Linked DNA regions of Homo sapiens: region 2 is linked to region 1. Evidence: fine-mapped expression QTL. Tissue or cell type: whole blood. Region 1 holds a variant in brackets; the other region holds the start of a gene. Each region is shown on its reference strand, or each on the opposite one. Region 1 holds the start of LOC124901432 (a long non-coding RNA gene). Region 2 holds the start of RPL27 (ribosomal protein L27).

The links. PIP is the estimated chance that this variant, and not a neighbour inherited with it, causes the effect.
Region 2: RPL27 starts here. The variant in region 1 is fine-mapped to the expression of RPL27 in whole blood (TOPMed, PIP above 0.99).

The regions. Positions count from the first base shown.
Region 1 is chr6:151,146,316-151,161,590 of GRCh38, forward strand. LOC124901432 (a long non-coding RNA gene) reads right to left here and starts at 4,655. Exons shown (of 4, transcript XR_007059813.1): 1 at 4,574-4,655. The variant C/T (reference allele first, on the strand shown) is at 7,212.
Region 2 is chr17:42,992,667-43,007,941 of GRCh38, forward strand. It overlaps RPL27 (ribosomal protein L27), which reads left to right and starts at 5,753. Exons shown (of 5, transcript NM_000988.5): 1 at 5,753-5,805; 2 at 6,083-6,165; 3 at 7,267-7,436; 4 at 10,007-10,117; 5 at 10,206-10,293. The coding sequence starts at 6,085. The coding sequence ends at 10,254. LOC124904006 (a long non-coding RNA gene) reads right to left here and starts at 7,267. Exons shown (of 2, transcript XR_007065759.1): 1 at 7,055-7,267; 2 at 119-6,720. RUNDC1 (RUN domain containing 1) reads left to right here. Exons shown (of 5, transcript NM_173079.5): 5 at 1-2,476. It overlaps IFI35 (interferon induced protein 35), which reads left to right and starts at 14,118. Exons shown (of 7, transcript NM_001330230.2): 1 at 14,118-14,302. The coding sequence starts at 14,282. RefSeq lists enhancers at 5,310-6,509, 5,475-5,784, 5,795-6,034, 6,105-6,214, 13,978-14,287.

The sequences.
Region 1 (15,275 bases):
CCAACGTGGTGGCTTCAAACAACAGAAATTTCTCTTAGTTCTGGAGGCCAGAAGTTTGAAATCAGACTGGGCATGGTGGCTTATGCCTGTAATCCCAGCACTTTGGGCGGCCAAGGCCAGTGGATAGCCTGAAGTCAGGAGTTTGAGACCAGCCTGGCCAACATGGCAAAACCCCATCTCTACTAAAAATACAAAAAATTAGCTGGGCATGGTGGCCAGCGCCTGTAATTCCAGCTACTCAAGAGGCTGAGGCAGGAGAATCGCTTGAGCCCAGGAGGCGGAGGTTGCAGTGAGCTGAGATTGGGCCACTGCACTCCAGCCTGGGCAACAGAGCGAGACTCCATCCAAAAAAAAAAAAAGTTAGAAATCAAAGGATTGGCAGGGCCACACTCCCTCTGAAGGCTCCACGGGAGAATCCTACCTCATCTCTTCCAGCTTCTGGTGGTCCCAGGCATTCCTTGGCTTGTGGCTGCATCACTCCAATCTCTGCCTCTGTCTTCACAAGACTTCCTCCTCTTCTCTCTCGATCTGTGTTTTCTTCTCTTCTCTCTCTTATAAGGACTCTTGTCATTGGATTTACAGCCCACCACATAAGTCAGGATGATCTCAGCTCAAGATCTTTAACTTAATTACATCTGCAAAGATCCTTTTTCCAAAGAACATCACCTTATGGGCTCCAGGGATTAAGGCAAGGCATGTCTTTGCAGGGGCCACCATGAAACCCATTGAGATGTGCTTCCAGGCTAGAAAGAGTGGCCTTCAAACTGGTACACACATGCATACATATGTGAGCAGGGGACATTCTTACCAAGTACAATCTTATGTGACACCCCAATATATAAAGGGGGTAAGTGGAGCTGTTTGGCTGAGGTGGAATGCAGGGAGAGCAGCATCACTCCATCAAGGACACACTGGATTGTAGGGGACGCAAGGACTCCAAGCCCTCGATGTCTTTCAAAGGAGGTCAGAGGGAGGGCCACATTGTACTTGCTGTCCTTGGGAGAACGCCCCAAACCCTCCCTCTCTGGCTCTGCGCCTTGGCCCACACAGGCCCCGTCTCTTTGCCACCACAGAGAGAATCAGGCACCCAGAGAAGTTCTGCACATGATAAGAAGGACTTGGGTGAGAATCACACGGAGGTCCTGACTTACAGTTTTTTTGAAAAGCAAATCATTCGCATATCTCAGCAAAAGTCCTCAAAGGACATTCCTGAGTTTCAGTGGGAGGAAAAATGAGTTGCTTTCTGAGCCCTCTCAGCACCTTTCTGGACTGGTGAATGTTACAATATGCTGTGTTGCTACAACTTTATCTACAAACTGGGCCCGAGCGTCCGACACAGACTGTTCCTGCACTCACAAATGACGGTGTATTCCAGAAGTTCATTTGTAGGTGAGTTGTTTGCATCTCAGAAAGCCTTTTCCCTCTGTCGGGGGCTAGAGATCTCAATGTCTATTGATTGTTACAGACAGCAAGACAGAGCTCTTGTAGCTGGCTGGCCTCCACCGTGGGCCTCGCAGAGCCCCCAGACTCAGAGCCCTGGGCAACACTGGGCTTGAAAGCAGGGCTAGAAGGGAAGGGCAAAATGGGGCACAGGGTCTCCCAGGCACTCAGCAGTCATGGGCATTGCTGAGGGGGTGCCAAGGACAAGAGGGTTGAGGGGCAAGACGGTCACCATGGGGGTGGCTGCAGAAGGCCGGAGCAATCTGTATGTCAGATAACTTGGTGGGGCAGGCCTGCCTGTATTGTTGCCATCTGGCTAATAAGGATTTGAAGGCTGTGAAAGGGAAGGGGTTTTGCTGTAATCGTTTCCTAGGGCTGCTAGGAAAACCAAGTGCCACCAACTGAGTGGCTTAAAGCAACAGAAATGTATTCTCTCGCAGTTCTGGAGGCTGCAAGTCTGAGATCAAGGTGTCAGCAGAGCTGTGCTCTCTCTCCCGCCTTCTGGTTGTTGCCAGCAATGCTTGGCGTTCCTGGCCTGCGGCTGCATGACACATTTCTCTGCCTCCGGTGCTCCATGGCCACCTCCCCTCTGCACGCCTGTCTCCACATGGCCTTCTCCCTGTCCATGTGTCTCTTCTCATAAGGACACCAGTCTTACTGGATCCTAATGACCCTATCGTAATATGATCACATCTGCAAAGCACCTATTTCCAAATAAAGTTACATTTACAGGTACTAGAGGTTAGGACTTCAACCTATCTTTTTTTGGAGAAACAATTTAACCCGTAACAGAGGCATATAATCTGTCATCCCACCTAAAATAAAAATACAATCTATAATGGCCATGATGTGTAGCCACAGAGCCTCTGCTAAATACTGCCAGCAACAGGCAGGGAATCCATTCCATTTTTAGGTAGCCCCAGTCATGAGCTACCTCATTCCTTAAAATGGCCCAAAATACGCTTCTCCAGACTTTCACCTGTTGAACTGTTTTCCTTTATTGAACTACATAGAATAAATCCAATCACTCTTGACAAAATCTTTTCAAATATGTGAAGCCCTCCCAGCCAGCCTCCAAATATTTTCTTAAAGCTAAAAATTCTCCAGATCTTTATATGATTGACATGAGGGTTTTTTGTTTTGTTTTTTGTTTTGTTTTGTTTGAGACAGAGTCTCGCTCTGTTGCACAGGCTGGAGTGCAGTGGCACGATCTCAGCTCACTACAACCTCCGCCTCCCAGGCTCAAGCGATTCTTGTGCCTCAGCCACTGGAGTAGCTGGAATTACAGGTGTGAGCCAACAACACCCAGCTAATTTTTGTATTTCTAGTAGAGACAGGGTTTTGCTATGTTGGCCAGGCTGATCTCGAACTCCTAGCCTCAAGTGATCTGCCCGCCTTGGCCTCCCAAAGTGCTGTGATTACAGGTGTGAGCCACTGTGCCCAGCCATGGTTTTAAGATCTCTCAGGATTCTAGTCACTGAACTCTGGACATGGTCAATGGTCTAGGCCCATCCTAAGAAGAGGCTTCCATGACTGAAAGCCTACAATGTAGATATGATCTGATGGATGAAGAAATCAATGGGTGTATTTATTTCTAGGATTTGAGCATTACCCCACTACAGAAACCTAACCTTGTATTGAGATTTCTGTTTTGGTTTGGTTACAGTTTGGGTTTATCCGCTTGCTTGTTTTGCAGAGGGTCGCAGAGTTTAGTGGCAAAGCTGGGCTGTTGACTCAGATTACGTTTGCGTCAGTTAAAATCTCTGAGCTTTTTCATAATTCCTCTTAAATCACATCTTCCACTCATTACTTGTGCTGTTTCTTTTTGAACCTCCTGCATGTTGGTTCCTATTAAATTTCATCTTACTGCTCTTTGTACTTCAATGTAACAGCACATTCCACCTCTTGCAAATGTTGGCATGTCATTCCTGCATTAGCCATCCAACCCAGCTCTGGTAATCTGCTTCCAACAGGAAAAAACAAGGAGGAAAGAGAACCAATATCTAGAACATTTATTAAGACGCCAGCAAGCTAGACAATTGTTAATTGACATCTTTTTAATTGACATCAACACACAAACAGAAAAGTGCACAAAAAAACATACAATTCAATGAATTCTCACAAAGCAGATGCCTGTGTAGCCACCCATGTCAAGAAAGAGAACATTAGGCTGGGAATGTTTTAATAAGCATTTTTCTCTTTAAATCCTCAAGCCTACTTGGTAATTATTATTAAACCTGGTTTACAAGATGATAAAACAGATTCAGAAAGGTTAAGTGGCTTGCCTAGCTGACTGCCACAGCTGGGAGTTGTAAAGCACGGAATGGGCCCCATGTGGTGGCTCATTCCTGTAATCCCAGCACTTTGGGAGGCCAAGGCGGGTGGATCACTTGAGGTCAGGAGTTCGAGACCAGCCAGGCCAACATGGTAAAACCCCATCTTTTTTTTTTTTTTTTTTTTTTTAAGGCAGAGTCTCACTCTGTTGCCCAGGCTGGAGTGCAATGGCTTGATCTCGGCTCACTGCAAGCTCCGCCTCCTGGGTTCATGCCATTCTCCTGCCTCAGCCTCCTGAGTAGCTGGGACTACAGACGCCTACCACCACGCCTGGCTAGTTTTTTGTATTTTTAGTAGAGATGGGGTTTCACCGTGTTAGCCAGGATGGTCTCGATCTCCTGACCTTGTGATCCGCCCACCTGGGCCTCCCAAAGTGCTGGGATTACAGGTGTGAGCCACTGCGCTAGGACTGAAACCCCATCTCTACTAAAAATACAAAAATTAGCTGGGCATGGTGGCACACACCTGGTAGTCCCAGGTACTTGGGAGGCTGAGGCAGGGGAATCGCTTGAACCTGGGAGGCGGAGACTGCAGTGAGCTGAGATTGCACCACTGCACTCCAGCCTGGGCGATGGAGTAAGACCCTGTCTCAAAAAAAAATCTAATATACCCCATAAAAATATAGACCTATTATGTATCCACAAAAACAAAAAGAAAAAGAAAGAAGGAACCCAACATTTGCCTATAAGAACAGAAACTACGCTTACTACAAGTCAACAAAGAAAAAAAACCAGTGTAGTCCTATTACCCCCATGCTTAGCACTGTCTGAAATGTCCTCTCCCTCCCTCCCATCCTTACTTTTTTTCTGATCAACACCTCTTCATCCCCACTTCAGCATTCCTTCCGCTGTGAAGCTTTGGGAGACTTTCTCAGGTTGAGCTAATCAGCTCCTCTTTTGTGACCTTCTGGTACTTCCTATTCTTCTAGTTAGAGCAGCGGTCTCATGAATAGACTCCTATTTCCTGGGTTATCTCCCTCACGAAAGAGTTGTCTTGAGGGGAGGAGTATGGTTTGTTCATCTTTGTGCTTCCACTGGTTAACAAAGTACCTGGAAAAAAATAGGCATTCAATGTGTGTGCTGTGGTATTGTTGAATGCGGTAGAGGATGGCTGAGAGAATGCAGAGCCTGAGTGCAGAAGCGGGGCTGCAGGTGCTGGGGGCTGAACCAGGGCAGCAGTAGTGGGGATGGAGATGCTTAGGACAGCTGGTCCTAAATCCTGGTCATTATTAAATCGCCTTAGGAGGCTGGGGAGGACTTTAAAATGCAGATGCTCAGGCTACTTCCAGATGTACTGACTCAGTCTCTAGGGAGGGGACTCCACATCTGAATTCATTAGAAGTCCTTTAGCAGGGCCGGGTGCGGTGGCTCACACCTGTAATCCCAGCATTTTGGGAGGCTGAGCGTGTGGATCACCTGAGGTCAGGAGTTCAAGACCAGTCTGGCCAACATGGTGAAACCCCATCTCTACAAAAAATACAAAAATTAGCCAGGCATGGTGGCATGTGCCTGTAATCCCAGCTGCTCGGGAGGCTGAGGCAGGAGAATTGCTTGAACCCAGGAGGCGGAGGTTGCAGTGAGCCAACGTCACAGCTCTGCACTCCAGCTATCTCAAGAAAAAAAAAAAAGTCTTTCAGGGGATTCGGATCCTCAGACAAGTTTGGAAACCACTGACATAGGTAGTGTCCTGAGTCAAACTTGGAGGACACATGGAAGGCAGGGAAAGGGGGGAAAAGAAAGAGGAGTCTGGGTCCTAGGTTTGCCCAGCATGGATGATGATGATGGCATTGACGGAGCGAGTGCTGGAGGAGCCTTGGGGTGAAGTTGTTCTGCACGAGCTGAGTGTGCGGTGTCCGCACATATCCCGATGAAGATGGCCTTTTGGCAACTGGGAGCCAAGCCGGGGACTCAGGAGAGCAATCTGTCATTTAGGACCTTGAGAATTTGCCGTTTTGCTAGGAAAAAGGTCATCTTCCCATACTCACTCTGTCCTCTAGTTTAGCAGAAAGAGGTAAAAATTACTTTTACTTTCTAACTGATTAAGCCTGACAATCAGTAGTGATAATCCAGAAATAAGTACATTTAATTCATTTATGACAGTCCTAGAGTTTGCATAGTTACCTGTTTCTCATAAACAAATGCTTTAAAAGAAATTAAAAGAAGGATATTTTTGAGAAAATATGCACTTTAAAAATGGTCATGTTTAAACTCCAGTGGATGTTAGTAATTGACTTGAAAGTCTGTTTTTACAAATAAATCCTGGACCCATAAATGGATATTTGACCCCCTATAGCATAAAAGGGCAAAAACATGTCTGTAGAAACATCTGACCTAATCAATTTTCAAATTAATCTAAAATTACTATTTGAATTCAAATGTAGTAAATGTCATGGGTCCTTTCCCTGGGGCACAGACATAAACCTGATCTCCTAAATGACATAAAATAGAGAACGGAGCAATTTCTTTGGTGAATATGAATAAGCATTGGAGCCCATCTGGATAATTTACATAAAAATTGGATTTTCGCCCTTGAATTATCTTTTTATAGTGGACATCTCTCATATTGTCTCCTCAGCCTCCTGTTCCCCTTGTCTTCCCCTGTGAGACTCCTGCAGAAACTGCCCTTTTTTTAATTTGTTTATTTTTGAGACAGAGCCTCGCTCAGTCGCCCAGGCTGGAGTGCAGTGACGCCATCTCGGCTCACTGCAACCTCCACCTCCTGGGTTCAAGTGATTCTCCTGCCTCAGCCTCCCGAGTAGCTGGGATTACAGGTATGCACCACCATGCCTGGCTACTTTTTGTATTTTTGGTAGAGACAGGGTTTCACCATGTTGTCCAGGCTGGTCTCAAATTCCTGACCTCAAGTGATCCGCCCGCCTCATCCTCCCAAAGTACTGGGATTACAGGCGTGAGCCACTGTGCCTGGTCAGAAACTGGCCTGTTTTTATGGTGCTCCCTTCCTCTGGTGGAAGTTCACTGGTCCAAGATCAAGCTCGCCTATCCCCATGGGCCACCAGCTCTCTCCCCAAGGGCATCTGCCTTTGGGATCCAGCCTTGAAGGCAATCCTTTTCTAGAACTAAGAACTCCCAGGATAAAACTTGGGAACTGACTACGTTACCTACCATTAAAAGAAATCCTTTCAAAAGAGAATGAAGCCCAAATAAGAGAATAAGAAACATCCTGACCCACTGGCGCCCCTAGTTCTAGTAGCTTCGGAAGCCAGGCTGGAATGAGGACCTCTCACAGTCGGATGGTTCATTCTTCTTTAGGTTCTGTGATCCAAGAACTCCTTTCAGCCTACTCTAGAGCAAGATGGGTTTCCAGTCTCCTGAAACTAGGACTGCCAAGAATAATAATGTACCATTTCATACAGATTGACTCTCCAACTCAACCTCTGAGATCCTAACTTTCCTCAAAACCAAACGAAAAGGAATGAG[C/T]GGAAGAAGATGCTCTCTCTTACCGGTTGAATTGTGTCCCCTCCCTGCAAGAGATATATTAAAAGTTCTGGCCCTGGTGCAGTGGCTCACGCCTATAATCCCGGCACTTTGGGAGCCCGAGGTGGGCAGATCACTTGAGCTCAGGAGTTCAAGACCAGCCTGGCCAACATAGCGAAACCCTGTCTCTAAGAAAAACACAAAAATTAGCTGGGCGTGGTGGCGCACGCTTGTAATCCCAGCGACTCGGGAGTCTGAGGCAGGAGAATCGCTTGAACCCTGGAGGCGGAGGTTGCAGCAAGCTGTGATCACACCACTGCACTCCAGCCTGGGTGGCAGAGCAAGACTCTGCCTCAAAAAAAAAAAAAAAAAAAAAAAAAAAAAAAAAGAAGAAGAAGAAGAGAAGAGACACAGAGACAGAGACAGGGAAACAAGAGAGAAGATGACCATGTGGTGACAGGTGCAGAGAGTGGAGTGATACAGCTGCAAGCCGAAAAACATCAAGGATTGCTGGAAAACACCAGAAACTAGAAGAGGCAAGGAAAGGTTTTTCCCTACAGGTTTCAGAGAGAACATGGGTAAAACCTTGACTTCAGTCTTCTGGCCTCCAGAGCTCTGAGACAATGTGTTTGTGTTATTTTAAGCCACCCAGTTTGGCATACATTATTTGGTAGCCCTGGCAAACTAGTAGTTTCTAAGATACTTTCTATCCCTACATTGTCCTGCTTTGGTGCTTTTATATGGTTGAGAAGGGGCCAAAGGTACCAAGTTCTTTTCCTTGTGAAGTTCAGATGGATGCCCTGATAAATGGGGCAAGAGGGATGAGGGAGGGGATTACAGACTGTGGGATTATAGACTTTTAGCCTAAGGCTTTGTATCCAACAGTTGTCAAATTGAGGTTACACACTGAGACTTGGTTAGGGGGGCACTTCAGACATACAGCAGACCCTCAAAAAAGGTTGCTTTTCTTTATATCTTATATTAATACAAAGAAGAGCTGAAAAAATACCTTCAAAAGCTGTTTGCTGTGAGCTCAACTGCTGACTCCACCCCCCAGCCCAGTTCCATGCTGCTCCTGTCCACTCCTTCTTTTTTTTTTTTTTTTTTTTTTGGATTTTTGCCAAAGTTCCAGGCCAAAGTTTGTAAAAGTCCCCTCTTCAAGGAACATTTATTTAGAATGTCTTGCTACACGGGAAAACACAAATCTCTCTTGGTTTGTACCATGCGGTCTTAACCAGAGCAAAATCTAGTTGGTAAACAAACCAAAAAAAAAACCCACTTTGGCCTCCACAGCTGCCACCCCTTACCTCCATCTCTCACACATTTTCTAGTATGTAAAGAACTTGTGACTGTGAGGACGAGTAGATTTTCACACAGATAGAAACTGAGAGTACAGCCATTCATCACTCTGTGGACAAATCTTCAAATCCATGCCTTTTCACTCACTGGAATATAAGAAGTTAACTGTATTTTCACAGGATAAATCTGGATGTTTCAGTAAATCTTAAGTTGTTCATGCTAACCACGAGTGTGTCTGTCAGTAATACATGAAATCTCCAAAAGATTTAGGAGCGACATTGATGAAGGTGTTTATTTTTATTTATTTTTTTTATTTATATATTTTATTTATTATTATTTTGAGTTAAATTAAATTAAATTTTCATAGAGTCTTGCTGTGTTGCCCAGGCTGGTCCTGTTGTTTCTTTTTCCCTTCCTTCCTTCCTTTTTCTTTCTCTCTCTCTCTTTCTTTCTTTCTTTCTTTCTTCTCTCTCTCTTTCTTTCTTTCTCTCTTTCTCTCTTTCTTTCTTTGTGTTTCTCTCTTTCTTTCTCTTTCTTTCTTTCTTCTTAAGACAGAGTCTCACTCTGTTGCCCAGGCTGGAGTGCAGGCTGGAGGGCTCACTGCAGCCTCTACCTCTGCAGGATCAGGCAATCCTCCTGCCTCAGCCTCCCAAATAGCTGGGGATATGTAGATTTGGAGTGGGTATCCACTTCAGGTAGGAGGAAGAACAATATTAGCAAAGGCAGAGGCAAGAAAGCACCCTGCATTTTGGAGACAATAGAATCAAGCTTTTCTGAGTGGAAGGGATTTTAACACATTGGTTAGTCCAGTGATTTTTCACATCATGTTAAATTGCATAACTCTAAAAGATGATTTAGAGACAATATATAAAGCAGACAAAAGTGGAGCTGATCTGAGTAGATCAGGGTGGATCTAGTGGGACCCAGCCATGATGGTATGAGAGACCCATGTGTAACCTTCATAAGAGAAATGTAAACTGAAATCAAGATAAGGTTTGGTTAACAAATATAGATAGGAGGAGAATTGAATAAATAGAGACATTCATGTCCCTGGGTGGAGAAGTGTCCATTGTTATCTAATTAATGTATACCTTTACTGCTATTCCAACTCAAATCCCCATGGAAGTTTTGTAGAACTTAATATTTTTTTCAGAAAGAAGACTCTAGAATTAGGAGAATTACTCTAACATTTAACAGTATATTGTAAAACTGTAATAATTTGCATTCTGTATACTTTATCATATAATACTATAATACTTTCTAATACTATGCTATTAGATTTCATAATAAAGAACAGTGTGATAATGGTATACAAGGCTTATCCAAAGATAAGCCTTATTATACAATAAAATTAAATACATGAGAAAAAGCCATTATAAAAGTCAAAGGGAAAGAAAGAAAAATGCAGTTTTCTTTGGGAATAATATATAGGTCATCTGGAATAAAAATCCTATTGTTATTCACTACAAACCTATACCAAAATAAGTTCCAGATGATTTAAGGTTTTAATATATTTTAAAATATAAAAAAGAATAAAATAAATTAAATAGGTGGTAAACATCTAGATAGAAAAATGACATTCTATACTAAGAAACACTTGAAATCAAAAGATGAACAGATTTTAATAGATACAATGTTAAATTGCCCTAAGTAAAAAATAAAAATAAAATCAATAACCAAAAATAAGGCACCAATAGGCTGAAAAGTGCAAAAATAAATATTATACAAACTTAATAGCCTTTTTATATGATTTCATAAAGTAAGAAACATCACCAAGACCTTCCCCACAAAATGAGTAGACAACCCGCCAAATAAAATTTGTGAACACATATATGGAAAGATAATTAAACGTATTTGCAGGCAAAGAAATATAGACTTTGGCCGGATGCAGTGGCTCACGTCTGTAATCCCAACACTCTGGGAGGATGAGCTGGGTGGATTGCTTCAGCCCAGGAGTTTGAGAATAGCCTGGCAACACGGTGAAACCCTGTCTCTACCAAAAATACAAAAAAACTATCCAGGTGTGGTGGCGCACACCTGTAGTCCCAGCTACTTGGGAGGCTGAGGCAGGAGGATCACTTGAGCCTGGGGGGCTGAGGCTGCAGTGAGCCAAGATGGCACCTGCACTCCAGCCTGGGCAATAGAATGAGACCTTGTCTCAAAAAAATAAAATAAAAATAAAAATAAAGTAAAAGGAAATATATAGGCTTTGATTCTTTTTGTCATTCTGGCCAATTAACCTTTTCTAAAGAAATTATTATGAAATTCCAACTAGCCTAAAAATAATTTTTTTTTTTTTTTTAATTTTCTTGAGACAATCTCACTCTTGCCCAGGCTGGAGTGCAGTGGTGCGATCTTGGCTCAATGCAACCTCCACCTCCTGGGTTCATGATGCAATTCTCCTGCCTCAGCCTCCTGAGTAGCTGGGATTACAGGCATGCGCCACCACGCCAGGCTAATTTTTGTATTTTTAGTAGAGACGGGGTTTCACCATGTTGTCCAGGCTGGTCTCGAACTCCTGACCTCAGGCGATCCAGCTGCCTCCCCATCCCAAAGTGCCAGGATTACAGGTGTGAGCCACTGTGCCCCGCCTAAAATAGTATTTTTAAGTGTCTATCCTTAAAATAAAATAATTCAAAAACATGAGAAAACTCGATGTACAAATCCATTCAGGGCACTATTATTTACAACAGCAAAAAGCTAATATGCAAACAAATGAATAAATTAAGCCACAATGGAAGATTGGTTAAGTAAAATGGAATATAATAACTTGATAGCAGATTATGCATCCATTTAAAGTTTTTAATGCAAAAACTGTGCAAAATGATTTTATGTTGAGTAGAGGCAACAGCAAACCTGTGTTACTCCTACTGTATCCCCAGTGCTTAGCACAGCGCCTGGTCCCCAATAGGGAACCAATATGACTTGTTAAGTGAATGAAAACTGCACACACAAGGTATGACTCCAGACCATGTAAAACCTACTTACAGAGAAAAGAATGAGAAGAAATATAAATAATGGTAGAAGTGTAGAAGAAGTTATACTCCTACTTTACATTTCTTTTCATTTTTTGGAGAAAAAAAAAAGAGGCAATGCCCAAAATATTATATGGGGCCATACTTACAATTGTTTATCAAACTTTAACTAGGTGTCCTGTATTGTTATTTGCTAAGTCTAGAAAACCTACTAGACAACAGATTTCAAATCCTTATGGTTAATGTTTGCTTGTTTTATATAGATATATATTTTTGAGACAGGATCTGGCTATATGACCCAGGCTAGATGGCAGTGGCACAAACACAGCTCACTGCAGCCTCACCTCCTGGGCTCAAGTAATCCTTCTGCCTCAGCCTCCCAAGTAGCTGGGACTGCAGATGTGTGCCACCACGCCTGGCTAATTTTGAAATTTTTTGTAGAGGTAGGGGGTAGCACTTTGTTGCCCAGGCCGGTCTTGAACTCCTGGGCTCAAGTGATCTTCTCGCCTTAGCCTCCCAAAATGCTGGGATTACAGGCGTCAGCCACTGCGCCCAGCCCCTTACAGTTAATTTTTGAAGTCTATTGAACAAATCAGTTCCCTTGATGCATGATTATTTTTTTCTTCCTCATATATAATCATGTGTATTTTTTCTGTATAGAAAAAGTATAAACAAAGAGAAAAAACTGCACTAAATCCCACTACCAAAGATAACTACCATTTGTATTTGAAGACATTCCCTACGTATATGCATATAAGATTTATATATGTAGTTTTACATGCATATGAAATCATACCATAAATGCTTTCTTGTAATCGTGTTTTTTGCTGTTTATGTTTTCCATGACTGCCAATTTCACTGCCTGTTCAGAGGTCTGACTTCCATAAAAATCCCATTTACTTACCATTCCCGGGGGCCAGCAGTACATGGGCCACATATGCAGATGATTAACTGGTAGTTTGTTTGTTGTTTTTATGGCAAATCACATAGCACAGGCTTACAGAGGGTCCTCCCTTGAGAGCACAAGCCCAGAACCTGTTATCTAAGCCCTCCACAGTCTTGAAAAAGAGACACAATTTTGTGAGGGATATGTTCATGTGAATTGGTACTTACTAGGCTTTATTTCATCTCATACCAATTTTGTTCCAGAAACTTCCTAGAAAGCTATGAAAACATGAGACAATGACCATGGATATGGTATCTGGGAGAAGTACTGATTACGTAATGCAGTCTTTATTTTTTATTTTTTATTTTTTTTTGAGGCAGAGTGTCACTCTTGTCACCCAGGCTGGAGTGCAGTGGTGCAATCTTGGCTCACTGCAAGCTCCACCTCTCAGGTTCAAGCAATTCTCCTGCCTCAGTCTCCTGAGTAGCTGGGATTACAGGCGTGCGCCACCACGCCCAGGTAATTTTTGTATTTTTTGTAGAGACGGGGTTTCACCGCGTTGGTTAGGCTGGTCTCAAATTCCTGAGCTCAAGTGATCCACCCACCTCAGCCTCCCAAAGTGCTGGGAATTATAGGCATGAGCCACCACACCTGGCCCATGCAATGCAATCTTAGCAGCTGAGTTCAACATTTATTGAGCAGCTACTATCAGCCAGACACAGGGTTAAGCACACAAAGCATAGGAAGACCAAGAAAATGTACCCCAGCCAGGGGAAGCTTCAATTTACCAAACATAATATGAAGTAGACATTCATCTATGATTCTACCACTCAGAAATACTATTATTAACATCGATCCAGATATAAGAATTATAATACCCAGCACTTACAGAGTTTTTCTTCTTTCTTTCTTTTTTTTTTAATAGAGACAGCCTCTCACTAGGTTGTCCAGGTTGGTCTCAAAGTCCTGGGCTCAAATAATCCTCCCACCTCGGCCTCTCAAAGTGCTGGGATTACAAGAGTGAGCCACCACACCCAGCCTGCAGCTCTTATTTTATAGAGACTTTAAGAGTTTAAATAGTCACTTATGAAATCCTCAAAATATTATTGCAATGTACAATTTGTATTTCTATTGCACAGATGAAGAAACTGAGGCAAAGAAAGATTATTTAACCTGCCTTAAATTGCATAGTTGCAATGTGGTAGGGCCTCGATTCAAAACCAATGTCTCTCCATAGATGAGACAGAGAGAGAGAGAGAGAGAGAGAAGAGGAGAGAGATGACATTGCTTTGGAAACCAGACTTTGAAACAAATAGCATACAACACTATGTGTCAATCACTATCCTGAGTATTTTAAATATTATGATTTATTTTATCCATAAAGTTAGCAGGTACTGCTTATTTCATCCAGACAACTTAGTGACCACAAGTGACTTTAAGAACTTTAACAAGAGCTAGACTGCCACGACAACCGGGGTTGCCCTGCATTTCATCAGAGCTTCTCTACATTAGGGGGTTCTGCCTCACCTGAAAATCAAGATCCCTTAAATGAAACTTTTCAAGTCTGCTTTCCCAGCCTTGAATGTCATGGTCACACCTGAAGTCGTTTATCTCTGGACCCATCTCCTGGAAGGTTTAGGCATGATTGATAAATGCCTATGCACAGGTGAGCAACAGCCCCAGATTGTTAGCTGTATAATTGCATCCATACACCTGAAAAACGTGAGCAATTTCGCTCCGAGCTCTGAGGTGGTTTCGTATGAGCAGATTTTCAAGTGATGCCTGGGAAACTTTGAGAACACAATTGTCAGCCCCGGGAGAACTGAGCACCACCCAAAGGGAGGTAGTCCCGGGAAGGGGCGCTGTGCAGACCTCCAGGACCCAGCGGTATCAGCTGCCTTGAGCGGGTGAAGCTCCATGGTGAGTGTGCCAGAGCACAGCTTTAATTTCCTCTCATCCGTCCCTTTCTCTTGGGCAAAATGAACCATAAAGTTTATATTCACTTTAGTGTATACATTTTAAATATACCCTATAAACCACAGGAGTAATGAATTCAAGATGCCCACATCATAGTAATTCTGCATGCAAGCTGTGTTTTATGATTTGTATCCAGCCTTTTTAGGATTTTTCAATAGGACCAGACTCCAGACTGCAGGGAAATGAAAAGAAGGATAATGATGTGAAGTTTCACGTCACCGCTAAGTTTCCAGCACTGTTGTCCTGTAGTCACCAAGCGGGTGCATTTTTTGTGTGCGGTGAAGTGAGTGGATTGTCCCAGGCTGAGAGATGCCCAGGTAGGAGGGACACTTGGCCTTCCTGTGCTCCTTCCATTGGCTCTAGGTGTCCCCTGTGGGTTGCGATTGGTCATGTGAGCAAGCGAGCACGTGGGCTTGTGTACATTTCTGCATTTCTGGGATAGCCCTGCCTTGCAGGTGCCAGAGAAACACGTGCTTCAGAAGGGTCAGATTGGTCATGCATCTGTGCTCAGATTGAAGGAGTGGCCTCCCTGAAGAATTCCAGCTTGCAGAGGCACTTTCAAAATGCAGTGAGCTCAGGTTCCAGGAGCTGTTACGGCAGTTTTTGTCTCGACACTCCGTTCCCCTGAATTCCACTTTGGGAAGAAGGGAAGAAGCCACCATGGGCCAGGCAGGCGACAGAGCAAGCCCTAGCCAGATCGCAAGCCATCAGAGCCCTGTTCCTTCTCTCCAAAGTGGGCTTCATTTACCCCTCTTCAAGCAGCAGGACAGTCTGTTCAATGCAGGGGAGGCTTTAAGACATGGGGGCAGGGAGGGGTCATATTTTTGGCCTCGCTCCTGCTCTGCGGGCTTTCTCATGAATGCAGACCAGTGTGCACGAATGTGGCCAGGACACATGCTTTTCGCTCAGAATGCTCACTTGAAATGTAAG
Region 2 (15,275 bases), not on the chromosome of region 1:
ATTTAAATTCCTTTTATGAATAGATTTCCCTTTCTTCCTGACCCCAAGGTCAGAGGAGACTATATATTCCATGGCTGCCTCTAAGACTAGGAATAGGAATATCTGAAAACAGCATTTCTAAGGGTGGTAACCACAGGTCGATTTTAATACGAGTCCTTTTTCTTGTAGAGGTAAGTAAAATCTTCCTGACAAGGTAGTCCTCTTTTCATGGCACAGACAATGGGCTTTCTGTTTATGAGGGGTGAGAAGTGATGTTTGTTACTATGTTCTCCAGCAAGTAAACATTCCTCTGCTCACCTCCCAACAAGACTAACAGTCTTTTTAGAAGTAAATATATTCAAGACAAACGAGAAAATCCTGGCTACCCAAGTCGAGTATATACAGGAATACAAATCGGTAACCAGCAGCTGTTCCTCAGGTTGTGACTCACTGAGCACCACTTGTCCTGGAGGCTGGATGATGGAGGACATCTGGTTATAGGTACTGTAGCAGGGATAGGTGCCACAGGAGGATAGGAACTACAGCAGATCGCTGTTTCCAGAACGGGGAGGAGTATCTCATTGTGAAACAGACTCTAGAGTGGTTCTATTTGGTCTTCAGTGTTTTAGCCTCGTTAGTTCATATTTGGCATGCAGCTTGTGGTGAGTACTGTTCTAGGACTGGCCAAAAATGGGCAAAATGTATCACTCCAAACACTACTGATTCAGCATTGTTTTCATGTCTTAAAATTGCCACCTGCACTTTGTTTCTGCACTATTATGTAGTGCATTTTAACTTAAATTTTTTCCAGCAACATGTTACTTATTTAAGATACATTACTGATATTTCATTATAATTAGTTCACCTTCCCTGTGAAACAAGAGAATTGTAAAATGTTGTGGAAAATGATACATATGTGGATGCTAATGAAATCATAGTATTTTGTGTAGCTTCTCTGAAGACCTTAGAGATCTGCAGCTTTGGTTTATAAGTGTTTGGGCCTTATCAGCCCATCTGATCCAGATCAATATTTTTTTGAAAACTGCCTGTATCCTCTGTCCTCTGTTACGGATCATCTCAGCTTTGGTGGTGGTAGTAGGGGTTTTTTGCCTGAAAAAATTCACTAAAAAGTCCCCTTGGCATGACCATCTCCTCCTGCCCACGCCTGTAGTCCCTCCCCACAACAGATGTCATCACACATGCTGCTTTTGGAATGGAGACCTTTTTTTTTTGAGATGGAGTCTCGCTCTGTTGTCCAGGCTGGAGTGCAATGGCGTGATCTCAGCTCACTGCAACCTCCGCCTCCTGGGTTCAAGCGATTCTCCTTCCTTAGCCTTCTGAGTAGCTGGGAGTACCGGCGCCTGCCACCACGCCTGGCTAATGTTTGTATTTTTAATAGAGAGGGTTTCACCACATTTGTCAGGCTAGTCTCGAACTCCTGACCTCAGGTGATCCACCCACTTCAGCCTCCCAAAGTGCTGGGATTATAGGCGTGAGCCACCACACCCAGCCAGGATTGGCACTTTTAAATCCACTTGTCTGGATATCACTTTGGGTGGTAACTGGTATAGCCATATGGCGTAGCCCAGCGATCACCCCAGTATTGCCTTTTTCAAATCACAAAAACAAAACTTGTATTAAGGCTTTGTGCTAGCATTACAGGAAGCATTTTCATTTGTCTCATTCTAATTAAATTCTCACTACTTACAAAGTGGGACAGTATTATCCCCACTTTACAGCTGAGGAAACTGAACTGCAGAGAGGTTAAATATTTTGTCCTGGTTTACATGATGATGGAAGACCTGAGATTTGGAGTCAAGTTTTCTGAATCCAGAGCCCACAGTCTATCTTTTCACTTCATTGTATCATGTTGTTTCTAGATTTTGGTTTCTCTTTCTCCTTTATCCACCACCCTCATTCCTCCCCTCACTTTGGGGAGGAGAAGGTATTTTCTACACAACTGCCAGAAATTTCAGCTGCCAAAGGACAAGGCTGCAGGGAGACAGGCCGGCAGCCATGACTTTCATGTCTAAGTTCTTGAAACCTAAATGTGTGTATCAACTGAGACAACCCAACAATTCCATCAGCATCCCTGCAGTCAGATATCTGCTAAGCTCTGATATCATCTGTCATTACTGAGAACAGAGCTCTGTCCTTCACTTAGGGTGAGACAGGACAAGGGAGGAGAGGCAGGCCAGTCCACCCAGATCCAAGGATATGCAAGAATGGAAGGGTCAAGAGCCACGGATATGTATGCAGTGGAAATGTAGGGTGTGTTGTACAAGTATGATCTGCAAAGTATTGTTAAAGCCGTCTAAGGTGCTCTCCAATCATTCATTCACTATTGATCACTTAGCAACTGCCTGCCTAGACTAGATGCTAAAGAAAGAGAAAAGTAAACCTACCCCGTGCCCTCAACAAACACAGTCTAGCAAAGGAGATACCATACCAATTGGAGATTTGGAGAGACTGTTAAAATATAGATTGCTGGGTCCCATCCCCAGAGTTTTTTATTGAGTTGTTTTGGGGTGGGGCCTGAGAATTTGGTTTCTAACAAGTTCCTAGGTTATGGTGATGCTGCTGCTCTGGGAACCACACTTTGAGATGAGAACCACTCATATCCAAACTAAGATTATGTTCTCTAATAAAGGTAAGTACAGACTGGATTGCTGAGAGAGCCCAGAGAAAGGAGAGATTAATTCTGCCTGGGAGAATTCTGGAATAACCTTGAAGGATGGATAGAATTTGAATAGGATTTTGCCTGGTTACTTGGAGAGGAAGAAAAAGACACAAGGAACAGCCCAGGGGGTATGTGAAGGGTGGGGGAGTCAGAAATTTATGCTGCAGGAAAGGTAGTAAGGAAGGAAAGGAGTGAAAGTTCATACTATTGAATAAGCCAACAATGGAGTTCAAGAAAAGTGAAGAACTTTTCAAGAAAAAGAGTTGTTTAAAGCTGTTGCTCAAAATAAGATCTATAGATCATATGGCTCCACTCCAGACCAGAATGACTATCTCTGAGGTTGGAGATACTTCTTTAATAAGCATCCCGGGGGCCAGGCGCGGTGCCTCACACCTGTAATCCCAGCACTTTGGGAGGCCTAGGCGGGTGGATCACAAGGTCAGCAGATCAAGACCATCCTGGCTAACATGGTAAAACCCTGTCTCTACTAAAAAATACAAAAAATTAGCTGGGCGTGGTGGCGGGTGCCTGTAGTCCCAGCTACTCGGGAGGCTGAGGCAGGAGAATGGCATGAACCCGGGAGGCGGAGCTTGCAGTGAGCCGAGATCTCGCCACTGCACTCCAGCCTGGGAGCGAGAGGGAGACTCCGTCTCAAAAAAAATAACAAGCATCCCGCTGGGCATGGTGGCTCACGCTTGTAATCCCAGCACTTTGGGAGGCCAAGGTGGGTGGATCACCTGAGGTCAGGAGTTCGAGACCAGCCTGGCCAACATGGTGAAACCCCATCTCTACTAAAGATACTAAATTAGCCAGGCGTGGTGGCATGCGCCTGTAGTCCCAGTTACTCGGGAGGCTGAGGCAGGAGAACTGCTTGAGCTCAGGAGGCGGAGATTGCAGTGAGCCAAGATCATGCCACTGCACTCCAGCCTGGGCAACAAAGTGAGACTCCATCTCAAAAATAAAAGACATAAGACAAAATTCAGAGGATTTAGTTACTGATTTGATTTGGAGGGTAAGGTGGCTTAGTCCTAGCTACTTGGGAAGCTGAAATGGGAGGATCGCTTGAGGCTAGGAGTTTGAAGCTACATCACACCTGTCAATAGCCACTGCATTCAAGCCCGGCAACATAGCAAGACCTCATCTCTTTAAAAAATGAAATATATAAGAAAAAGACATTTTAAAAACCATTGGAGGCCAGGCGTGGTGGCTCATGCCTGTAATCCCAGCACTTTGGGAGTTCGAGGCAAGCGGATCACTTGAGGCTGGGAGTTCGAGACCAGCCTGGCCAACATGGCGAAACTCCATCTCTACAAAAAATATAAAAATTAGCCGGGTGTGGTGGCAGGAGCCTATAGTCCCAGCTACTTAGGAGGCTGAGGCAGGAGAATCGCTTGAACCCGGGAGGTGGAGGTTGCAGTGAGCTGAGATCGCGCCACTGCACTCCAGCCTGGGTGACAAAATGAGACTCCGTCTGAAAAAAAAAAAAATTGTAATGGGGCCGGGCACGGTGCTGCGTCGCCTGTAATCCCAACACTTTGGGAGGCTCAGGTAGGAGGATCACTTAATCCCAGAAGTTTTTGAGACCAGCCTGGGCAATATAGTGAGTCCCCATCTCTACCAAAAAAAAGTTCTTTGATTTTGTTTTTGTTTTTTTCTTCAAATTACACGGGCATGGTGGCACATACCTGAAGTCCTAGCTACTCAGGAGGCTGAGGTGGGGGGATCACGAGCCCAGGAGGTTGAGGCTACAGTGAGCCATGATTGTGCTACACACCATTCAGCCTGGGTGACAGAGCGAGACCCTGTCTCAAAAAACAAAACAAAAGCCATTGCAATGGGATCCTGAGGGATACAGGGAAAATTGTATCACTGGAGAGCTTCAGGAGAGAACTGATGAAATCCTGGTTGTTCCACATCTTGCCCAAGACAAATCCTATAGGTTCAGATAAGCAAAAACTGTGAGATAGTTTATCTTTCCCTTAAACTCGGAAAGCACATAAGGTACCATGTGAAAACACTCTTCTGGTGAGTGATGGGAAATAATTCAGTTTGAGAGCCAACTAGACCTAGATTCAGACCTAGATTTGAATCCCATCTATGCCACTGATTAGGATTAACCTCAGACAAGCAATTTATCCTCTCTGAATTGCAATTTCCTCATGTCTAAATGGGAGGAGAATGCCCAAGATGCAGAGTTGTGAGGATTAAACAGGCTGCCGGCTTGTATAAAGTGCTCACATCTTGCCTGGGAGAGAATCGCTGCTCAGGATGGTGACATGGTAAACAGTATGGGTTCAGGAGTTGAACTGCTTGAGGCTGAGCCCCAGCTCCACTATTTAACCACTATAGACTTCGGGCAAATCTCTCTAAGCCAGTTTCCTCGACTCTAGAATGGAGATAATAGTATCTATTTCTTAGTGTTATGATGACCAAATCAGATGATGTGCATAAATAGATTAACCTGACCTGGCACAGGGTAAGCAGCTGCCATTCTTCTCCTCTACCTCCCTCATGCTTATTCTAGTTGGTAATGTCAGTGACACCACTAGACTTTAACTGTTGGGGGTAAATATCCTTTTTGTTTGTTTTTTTAAAACCAAATTTAGCAGTGGGGGGTTGTATACCAACTTTAGTGACCCTAACGTTGATAAGTTCTGATAACCCACTACTATCGGACCAGCCACCCTTACTGATCTTTGTCCCTCCCTCTTTAGCTAACAGTGCCCCCGACAGGCACCAATAAATGCCCTATTTTTTTCCCTGTGTCTCCCAAGAGAAAAAGTAAATTTCAGATTGTGTTCCCCCTCCTAGCGCCAGAGAAAGGAACTACAACAAAGCCTAGCTGCTGAGTCCAGAGCGCACAGCACAGTCGCCCTCCCAGCTCTTCCGTCGGCCGGGAGGAGTCTCCTTTGCTCTTGTCTACTGCTGGAGCTGCTAATAAAGTTTCATTCGAATACTTGAGCTGCCGCGCCCTGCGTTTCCCTCATGAGCTTCTTCCGCCCGCAACACGAGACTCAGCACCACACAATCAGCGTGGCAAAGCCTGAAGGGCGGGACAGGAAGTGAGGTCACTCCTCACCGGGGTGAAAGGTTAGCGGAAGTGTCCTTCTTTCCTTTTTGCTGGTAGGGCCGGGTGGTTGCTGCCGGTAAGTAGAAGCTTGGGTTGAATCTTTCAATCCGCTGCCATCCGCGGCTTGGGGGTCGAAGGTCCGGGCGGCGCCGGGTGCATTCCTTCCCTAGGTCTCTGGCGGCTACGTATCCGATCCTGTCCTGCGAGCAGGGCCCTCGGGCGGCCTTGACCAAGGCGACAGTGAACACAGTCTGAAGTTCCGGCCCAAGACCTGGGCTTGCTGGCAGGAGTCAGCTCTGGGCATCTTTGGCTTTACGGATTTTTAAGTGGCCCTTTCTCCTTGCTCTCTGCAGAAATGGGCAAGTTCATGAAACCTGGGAAGGTGGTGCTTGTCCTGGCTGGACGCTACTCCGGACGCAAAGCTGTCATCGTGAAGGTATCAGCCTCGCGGGACTCTGCGTCCTTGCATGCCGGGACCAGGCTGGCTGCGGCGGGGCGGGCAGGCTTGGAATTCAAGGCCTGTTTCTGGGGCAGTAGCCAGTGAGCACGGTCAGGGTGAACGTGGGAGAGTTTTTGAGAGAGGAAGAAGCACAGTAAAAGCAAATGTGAGCTGAATTGGGCTCCCAACGCATAAAGCCTTCTCCACCAGAGGCTTTAAATATATAGTAATAGTGGCTGACATTGCACGCTTGCTATGTGCTCCCACTGCCTTTCAGGTATTGTCATGTGCAGTCCTTGAAGTAATCATAGGGGATTCCTTTTCTTTTCTTTTCTTTTTTTTTTTTTTGAGACGGGATCTCTGTCCAGGCTAAGTGCAGTGGCGTGATCACTGCAGCCTCGACCTCCCGGGCTCAAGCGAGTCTCCCATCTCAGCCTCTCGAGTGGCTGGGACTACAGGTGCGTGCCACCATCCCCAGCTATAGGGGGTTCCTTCCTGTTGCTAAGGTTTGGAGGTGTTCTGTTATTTACCTGAAGTGCTGCAGCTGGGAATCTGTAAGAAGAGGAGGAAATTGCTTTTAGAAAGGTCACATAGCCCCTCACTGTTTTCCTCTTATCCATGATTTTGTAGCTTCTTGAGAGAGTTCCCTAGGCTCTGGCCACATACACCACTGCGTTTTGTTGTTGTGGGGACACTGGAGTACCCCTGGATTCCCCTCTCCCATCTCCTGAGACTGATCTCTGGAGTTAGGCTGTGGTGTCTTAACCTTGGCTGTACACTTCACTAGCAGTGGAGCAAGTGAATAGATACCAAGTCCTGTGAGCAGTGCTTGGCATATAGCAAGTACTTCTTAAATGTTAACTGTTGCTACTTTTAAATCTCTTACCTCTAGTAAGCCGTTCCAGATGCTTCCTGATGGAGATAAACACTGTTCTGTTTCTCTTTGGTCATTTCTCATAGCTTTCTGTGATTTTTCTCTTTATAATGGTGGATCTTGGAGACCTGAGGGTGGAAATATTTTTTGGACACTGCACTACCTCTAACACAGGGCCTAAATAGGCCCTCAGTGAATAACAAATGTAATTCTTACTCATTTAGAACATTGATGATGGCACCTCAGATCGCCCCTACAGCCATGCTCTGGTGGCTGGAATTGACCGCTACCCCCGCAAAGTGACAGCTGCCATGGGCAAGAAGAAGATCGCCAAGAGATCAAAGATAAAATCTTTTGTGAAAGTGTATAACTACAATCACCTAATGCCCACAAGGTGAGCATTTCAAGAACTAGAATTTAAATTTCTTCTCCCTGCTCTGTTGAATAATGAGACAGACCTTGCAGCCATTCCAACACCAGGAAGGGATATCATTTCCAAAATGTTCATCTTCAACTCATAAAGTGGCTATGGTTTCCAGTTTTGCCTTTGATCCATCTTTTAAGTGTTGGGTAAAGATTGTTTTCCATCCACAGTAAACACAGGCATGGGGTCTGATCTGCCCTCTTCCACTGTTCCACCCTCAAGGATAAATACAATAGGTTTCAAAAAGTCTGTGAGTGCGTGAAAGCAAGTCTTCCCCAATTAATTTTACTCACCTGTTGGGCCCTTTAGTCTGGGGACATACACTGTCTTAGTACAGTGTTTTGTTTTGTTTTGTTTTTTTTTGAGACGGAGTCGCCCAGGTTGGAGTGCAGTGGCGGGATCTCACACCATTCTTCTGCCTCAGCCTCCCGAGTAGCTGGGAGTACAGGCACCTGCCACCACACCTGGCTAATTTTTTTTTTTTTGTATTTTTAGTAGAGACGGGGTTTCACCATGTTAGCCAGGATGGTCTCGATCTCCTGACCTCGTGATCTGCCCACCTCAGCCTCCCAAAGTGCTGGGATTACAGGCGTGAGCCACCGTGCCCGGCCAGTACAAGTGTTTTTTAAGAAGTACAAGAGGCCGGGCACAATGGCTCACGCCTGTAATCCCATCACTTTGGGAGGCCAAGGCGGATGGATCACCTGAGGTCAGGAGTTTGAGACTAGCCTGACCAACATGGTGAAACCCTGTCTCTACTAAAAATACAAAATTAGCTGGGCATGGTAATCCTGTAATCCCAGCTATTTGGGAGGCTGAGGCAGAAGAATCGCTTGAACCCGGGAGGTGGAGGTTGCAGTGAGCCAAGATCACACCATTGTACTCCAGCCTGGGCAAGGAGAGCAAAGCTCCGTCTCAAAGAGGTGCAAGGCCGGGCACAGTGGCTCACGCCTACAATCCCAGCACTTTGGGAGGCCGAGGCGAGCGGATCACAGGGTCAGGAGATCGAGACCGCACTGGCTAACACGGTGAACCTGGGAGGTGGAGATTGCAGGGAGCCGAGATCACACCACTGCACCTCCAGCAAAAGAGGTGCGAGAATTGAGAAAGTCCTGAACAATAATTGCCAGAACCCAGCAGCATGCACCTTAAAGTTTGCTGCTGGTATTGCACATTTACTCTGGGTTGGCTGACCTAAAGGGGCAGAGAGAGGCCGGACACCATGGCTCACGCCTGTAATCCCAGCACTTTGGGAGGCCGAGGCAGGTGGATCGCTTGAGGTCAGGAGTTCGAGACCAACCTGGCCAACGTGATGAAATCTCATCTCTACTAAAAAAAATTAGCTGGGCATGGTGGCTGGCACATGTAATCCCAGCTATTCCGGAGGCTGAGGTGGGAGAATCGCTTGAGTTTGGGAGGTGGAGGCTACAGTGAGCTGAGATGGCACCACTGCACTCCAGCCTGGGTGACAGAGCGAGACTCCATCTCAAAAAATAAAAATAATAATAAAAGGGCAGAGAGAGCTGTTTCTTGGGTGCTGGGATGTGGTGGGGTTGAGGCAGCTAGTGTTTGGGCTGTCATGAGAGTGACTGCATTGGCAGAACTTGAACAATAAGGAAATGATTTCAAGTAGAAAGTTAGCTAACTGTCATGATGAAAGTCAAGAAGGCCTAATTTGGCCGGGCACAGTGGCTCAGGCTTGTAATCCCAGCACTTTGGGAGGCCGAGGCAAGCGGATCACGAGATCAGGAGATCGAGACCATCCTGGCTAACACAGTGAAACCCCGTCTCTACTGAAAGTACAAAAAATTAGCCAGGCATGGTGGCAGGCGCCTGTAGTAGTCCCAGCTACTCGCAAGGCTGAGGCAGGAGAAGGGCGTGAACCTAGGAGGCGGAGGTTGCAGTGAGCCGAGATTGCGCCACTGCACTCCAGCCTGGGCAACAGCGAGACTGTGTCTCAAAAAGTGGGGGAGGGCCTCATTTGATGATTCTTAGCTAGAAAAATAAAGTAGTTGTGGGAAATTGAGAATGAAACATTGAATTTTACATTTTATTGGCTTGAATCCAATAAATGTTAAAAGTGAATTTTCAGGCCGGATGCGGTGACTCACGCCTATAATCCCAGCATTTTGGGAGGCCAAGGCGGGCGGATCACGAGGTCAGGAGATCAAGACCGTCCTGGCTAACACTGTGAAACCCCGTCTCTACTAAAAAAATACAAAAAATTAGCCAGGCCTGATGGCGGGCACCTGTAGTCCCAGCTACTCGGGAGGCTGAGGCAGGAGAATGGCGTGAACCCGGGAGGCGGAACTTGCAATGAGCTGAGATCACACCACTGCAGTCCAGCCTGGACGAAAGATTCAGACTCCGTCTCAAAAAAAAAAAAGTGTGAATTTTCAGATAATGTCATCGGGACATGGCTTTTGATGGTTGCTTCTAAGGAGTCAGACCCTGATTCCCTAGTGTCCCACAAGGATTTGGGCTGTATAGGGGCCCCGGCAGTATGTGGGCTAATCCTGCCTCTCCACCTTTGTCCCCAGGTACTCTGTGGATATCCCCTTGGACAAAACTGTCGTCAATAAGGATGTCTTCAGAGATCCTGCTCTTAAACGCAAGGCCCGACGGGAGGCCAAGGTCAAGTTTGAAGAGAGGTAAGTAGGCTTTGGTAGTGAATGGTGGAGTATGGTTTCACTATTTCCATTCCTTTCCTCATTGGTGTCCTCTTTTTTTCCCTTCTAGATACAAGACAGGCAAGAACAAGTGGTTCTTCCAGAAACTGCGGTTTTAGATGCTTTGTTTTGATCATTAAAAATTATAAAGAAAAAAAGCCTGTGTCTGCATGCTGTATGTATTACCAGACTGTGAAAAGGAGAACATTATTGAATAGGAAACACTGGGTGGGCTGGGCACGGTGGCTCACGCCTGTAATCCCAGTACTTTGGGAGGCCAAGGCGAGCGGATCACCAGGTCAAGAGATGGCCAACATGGTGAAACCTTGTCTCTCCTAAAAAATACTAAGAATTATCTGGGCCTGGTGGTGCACGCCTGTAGTCCCAGCTACTCGGGAGGTTGAGGCAGGAGAATTGCTTGAACCCGGGAGGCGGAAGTTGCAGGGAGGGCTGAGATAGCACCACTGCACTGCAGTCTGACAACAGCAAGACTCCATCTCAAAAAAAAAAAAAAAAAAAGACGCTGGGTGATGGATGAGGGGCTGGGAAAATGTTAAATCTGCCTTAATGAGATTTATGCTGCCTCTGTCCTTAGCCTGATAATCCCTGTGAAGAATTGTGTAGCCTCCCTGGCTTCTACCCATTACATGCCAGGAGAACCTCTGCCACACACACTCTGCCCCTCCTTGTGACAACCAAAGGCCCCTGAGTGGTGGGGATCAGGTATTTTTGATTGAGAACCACTAACCTGAAATTCTCAAACCTTAGCACAGATAGAGGTCACCTGGATGGTTTGTTAAACCACGGATTGCTGAAATCCTGCCCTCAGACTGATCCAGTAGGTCTGAGTTTCTAGCAGGTTTTCAGGTGACACTGGTACTGGTGTAGGTGAGATGGGGACCACCCTGGAGACCTGCTCCTGGTGGTAACGACAGATGCCTTTGGTGAATCCCTGAGCCTAGAGCAGCTGTTTAATAGGACAAGGGAGTGCTCCTCAAATGGCCTGGCTGGCAGAGACTTGAAAGAAAGTGATCAAAGGAGCTTTGGGGCATTGGGTTGTGCCACTACTGTGTAGTGCAGGAGAGACATTTGGTTCTTAGGATCTGGCATTTTATCTCTCAATGGACTGTAACTAGTCATGTTTCATGAATGAAATAGGTGCTCCATCTGAATGGTTCTGTCGCTAGAGGGAACTAAGATTCAAACAGGCCAGTTTGCCAAGTCTGCTAGGTACCACACTTGCACTTGGGAACCAGAGGGGGCGGGGTGGCGGGAAGGGGCCAAAAGTAGGATTGGTGAGTAACTGGAAAAAACTTTGGGCTAGGTTACTAGGAAACTTTTTTTTTTTTTTTTTGAGACAGAGGCTTGCTCTGTTGCCCAGGCTGGAGTGCAGTGGCACGATCTCGGCTCACTGCAAGCTCCGCCTCCCGGGTTCACGCCATTCTCCTGCCTCAGCCTCCCGAGTAGCTGGGACTACAGGCGCCTGCCACCATGCCCGGCTAATATTTTTGTATTTCTAGTAGAGACGGGGTTTCACCGTGTTAGCCAGGATGGTCTGGATCTCCTGACCTTGTGATCGTTCTACCTCAGCCTCCCAAAGTGCTGGAATACAGGCGTGAGCCACCGCGCCCAGCCACTTTTTTTTAAGATGGAGTTTTGCTCTTTCACCCACCCAGTCCGGAGCGAGGTGGCACTATCGGCTCACTGCAACTTCTGCCCCGCCCCGGGGTTCAAGCGATTCTCCTGCCTCAGCCTCCCAAGTAGCTAGGACTACAGGAGTGTGCTACCACACCCAGCTAATTTTTGTATTTTTAGAAGAGATGGGGTTTCACTATGTTGGCCAGGATGGTCTTGAACTTCTGATCTCATGATCCACCCACCTTGGCGTCCCAAAGTGCTGGGATTACAGGTGTGAGCCACTGCACCCAGCCAGGAAACTTTTTAATTGAATCTTCACACACTTAAGTATTAAGGCATCTCTATTGAGACAGACTTCTATTAAGTAGCTTGCCTACTCAGGGTCACAGAAATGGGGCTGAATTTAAAACTTTTGAGGAAAAATACAGCAAATTTTTTTCCACTCTACCTCAAGGCCCAAGTGTAAATACTGTTCCTACCAGGTTTGGATCCATGCTTTGATTCCTAGCCCTGTGACCTTGGGCAAGTTTCTAATGCTCTGTGCCTCAATTTTCTCATCTGTAAAGTGAAGAAAATAGAACCAACTTCATGGCATTGTTTTGAAGAGTTAATTCATGTAAGGCACAAGCGTGTTGGGCAGACGATAGCTCTCCTTGCTGGCCACTGTTAACAGTTTTGTGAACTTTTTTCTTTTTTTTTTTTTTGAGCCAGAGTCTCGCTCTGTCACCCAGCTGGAGTGCAGTGGCACGATCTCGGCTCACTGCAAGCTCCGCCTCCCGGGTTCAAGCGATTCCCCCGTCTCAGCCTCCCGAGTAGCTGGGACTACAGGCGCATGCCACCACGCCCGGCTAATTTTTGTATTTTTAGTAGAGACAGGGTTTCCCCATGTTGGTCAGGCTGGTCTCAAACTCCTGACCTCAAGTGATTCACCGCCTCAGCCTCCCAAAGTGCTGGGATTACAGGCGTGAGCCACTGCACCCAGCCTTTTTTTTTTTTTTTTTTTTTTTTTTAAGAGACAAGATTCACTGTGTTGCCCAGGCTGGCCTCGAACTCCTGGGCTCAAGCAGTCCTCCTGCCTCAACCTGCTGGAACTATAGGCACATGTTACCAGTGGGCCCAGCTGCTGGGATTGGCACTTTTTTTTTTTTTTTAGTCAGAATCTCACTCTGTTGCCCAGGCTGGAGTGCAGTGGTGTGATCCGGCCCGGCTAATTTTTTGTATTTTAGTAGGGACAGGGTTTCACCATGGTGGCCAGGATGGTCTCGTGATCCACCCGCCTGGACCTCCCAAAGTGCTGGGATTACAAGGCATGAGCCACTGCGCCTGGCAGTTTTGTGAACTTGAACTGTGGACTTTATCTGTCCTGATTGTGTTTCTCATTCATTCAGCAATTATTATTTTTTGAGATGGAGTTTCGCTCTTGTCACTCAGGCTGGAGTGCAACAGCGCGATCTTGGCTCAATGCAACCTCTGCCTCCCAGGTTCCAGCTATTCTCCTGCCTCGGCCTCCCAAGTAGCTGGGATTACAGGAATACACCACCACACCCGGATAATTTTTGTATTTTTTTAGTAAAGACGGGGTTTCACCACGTTGGCCAGGCTGGTGTCTAACTTGGGATCTCAGGTGATCTGCCCACCTGGGCCTCCCAAAGTGCTGGGATTACAGGTGTGAGCCACCGCACCCGGCAGTTTTGTGAACTTGAACTATGGGCGTTATCTGTCCTGACTGTGTTTCTCATTCATTCAGCAATTATTGTTTTATTTATTTTTTGAGATGGAGTTTCACTCTTGTCACCCAGGCTGGAGTGCAATGGCACCATCTCAGCTCAATGCAACCTCTGCCTCCGGGTTCCAGCTATTCTCCTGCCTCGGCCTCCCAAGTAGCTGGGATTACAGGAATGCACCTCCACGCCCGGCTAATTTTTGTATTTTTTTAGTAAAGGTGGGGTTTCACCATGTTGGCCAGGCTGGTCTCTAACTCCTGACCTCAGGTGATCTGCCCGCCTGGGCCTCCCAGAATGCTGGGATTACAGGTGTGAGCCGCCGCACCCAGCTCATTCAGCAATTATTTTATCAATGTTCAATGTGCCCAGCATTATTCTAGGCTCTAGGGAAATAATCCATTGACAAAGCAGGGTCTACCAATGGGCTTGTCGGAGATTGCTGGGAATGGTTGATGGGGGCCAGTTTGCAGTTGGGGTGAGGTGGCTTTCCTTGAGGCAGCCTGGCTGAGTGAAGTCGACTTTGCTGACCAAGAAGGCTCCTCCCAGGGGTGGGGAAGCCTCGGCAGGGGGCGGCATGTGAGCGCCAGAAGGCAGGGATTTCACGGAAATGAAAGTGGAAGCAAACAGCCTGCGAGCAGAGCCTCCTGAGGTGTATTTCGGGTCTTGCTGGGGCTGAGAGAGACCACAGCCCTTTGGGGGGTACAAACAAGAGTTCAGTTGCTGTGAATTCTGCCACTGTGCCCAGCTCTGAAGCCTCAGCTCTTGCCAAACAGACCCGAGACCCATGTCAGCCCCACTGGATGCCGTAAGTGAGGAGGAGGGAGTTGGGAAGTGGGGAAACAGGAGTAATCCTCTTGGCTAGGAACCTGCAGATATCTCAGGGCCTGGCAGCCAAGCCTCACCCTGCCCATCTCAGACCTGCTGAAGGGCTGGGGAGAAACACAGGGCTGGGGTTGCCTCTGCAAGAGTTGGTTCCCTAACCTATTGCCTCAGACAGGAGGAGCTCATTAAATCCTGTGTGTGTACACTTCTCTGGAGAGAGAATCTGTAGTTTCCATCAGATACTCAGCGGGTTCTGTGACCCAAATAACAATTGTTCTAGGCCGGGCGTGGTGTCTCACGCCTGTCATCCTAGCACTTTGGGAGGCCTTGGCAATACAGTGAAAATCCGTCTCTACTAAAATACAAAAAATTAGCTGTGTGTGGTGGTGTGCGCCTGTAATCCCAGCTACTTGGGAGGCTGAGACAGGAGAATCACTTGAACCTGGGAGGCGGAGGTTGCAGTGAGCCGAGATTGCATCACTGCACTCCAGCCTGGGTGACACAGCGAGACTCTGTCTAAAAAAAAAAAAAAAAAAATTAAACTAAAGGAATTAGGCTGGGTGTGTTGGCTCACACCTGTAATCCCAGCCAGCACTTTGGGAGGCTGAGGCGTGTGGATCACTTGAGGTTAGGAGTTCGAGACCAGCCTGGCCAACATAGCAAAACCCCATCTCTACTAAAAACACAAAAATTAGCCAGGCATGGTGGCACACACCTGTAATCCCAGCTACTAGGGAGACTGAGGCGGGAGAATTGCTTGAACCTGGGAGGCAGAGGTTGCAGTGAGCCGAGATTGTACCACTATGCTCCACTCTGGGCAACAGAGGGAGACTGTCTCTCACACACACACACACACAAAATTTATATATATATATATATATATATATACTATAAGAATTATACTTTAAGAATCACACTAGGTAATCCATAGATTAACACGGTAAAAACTTATCCCA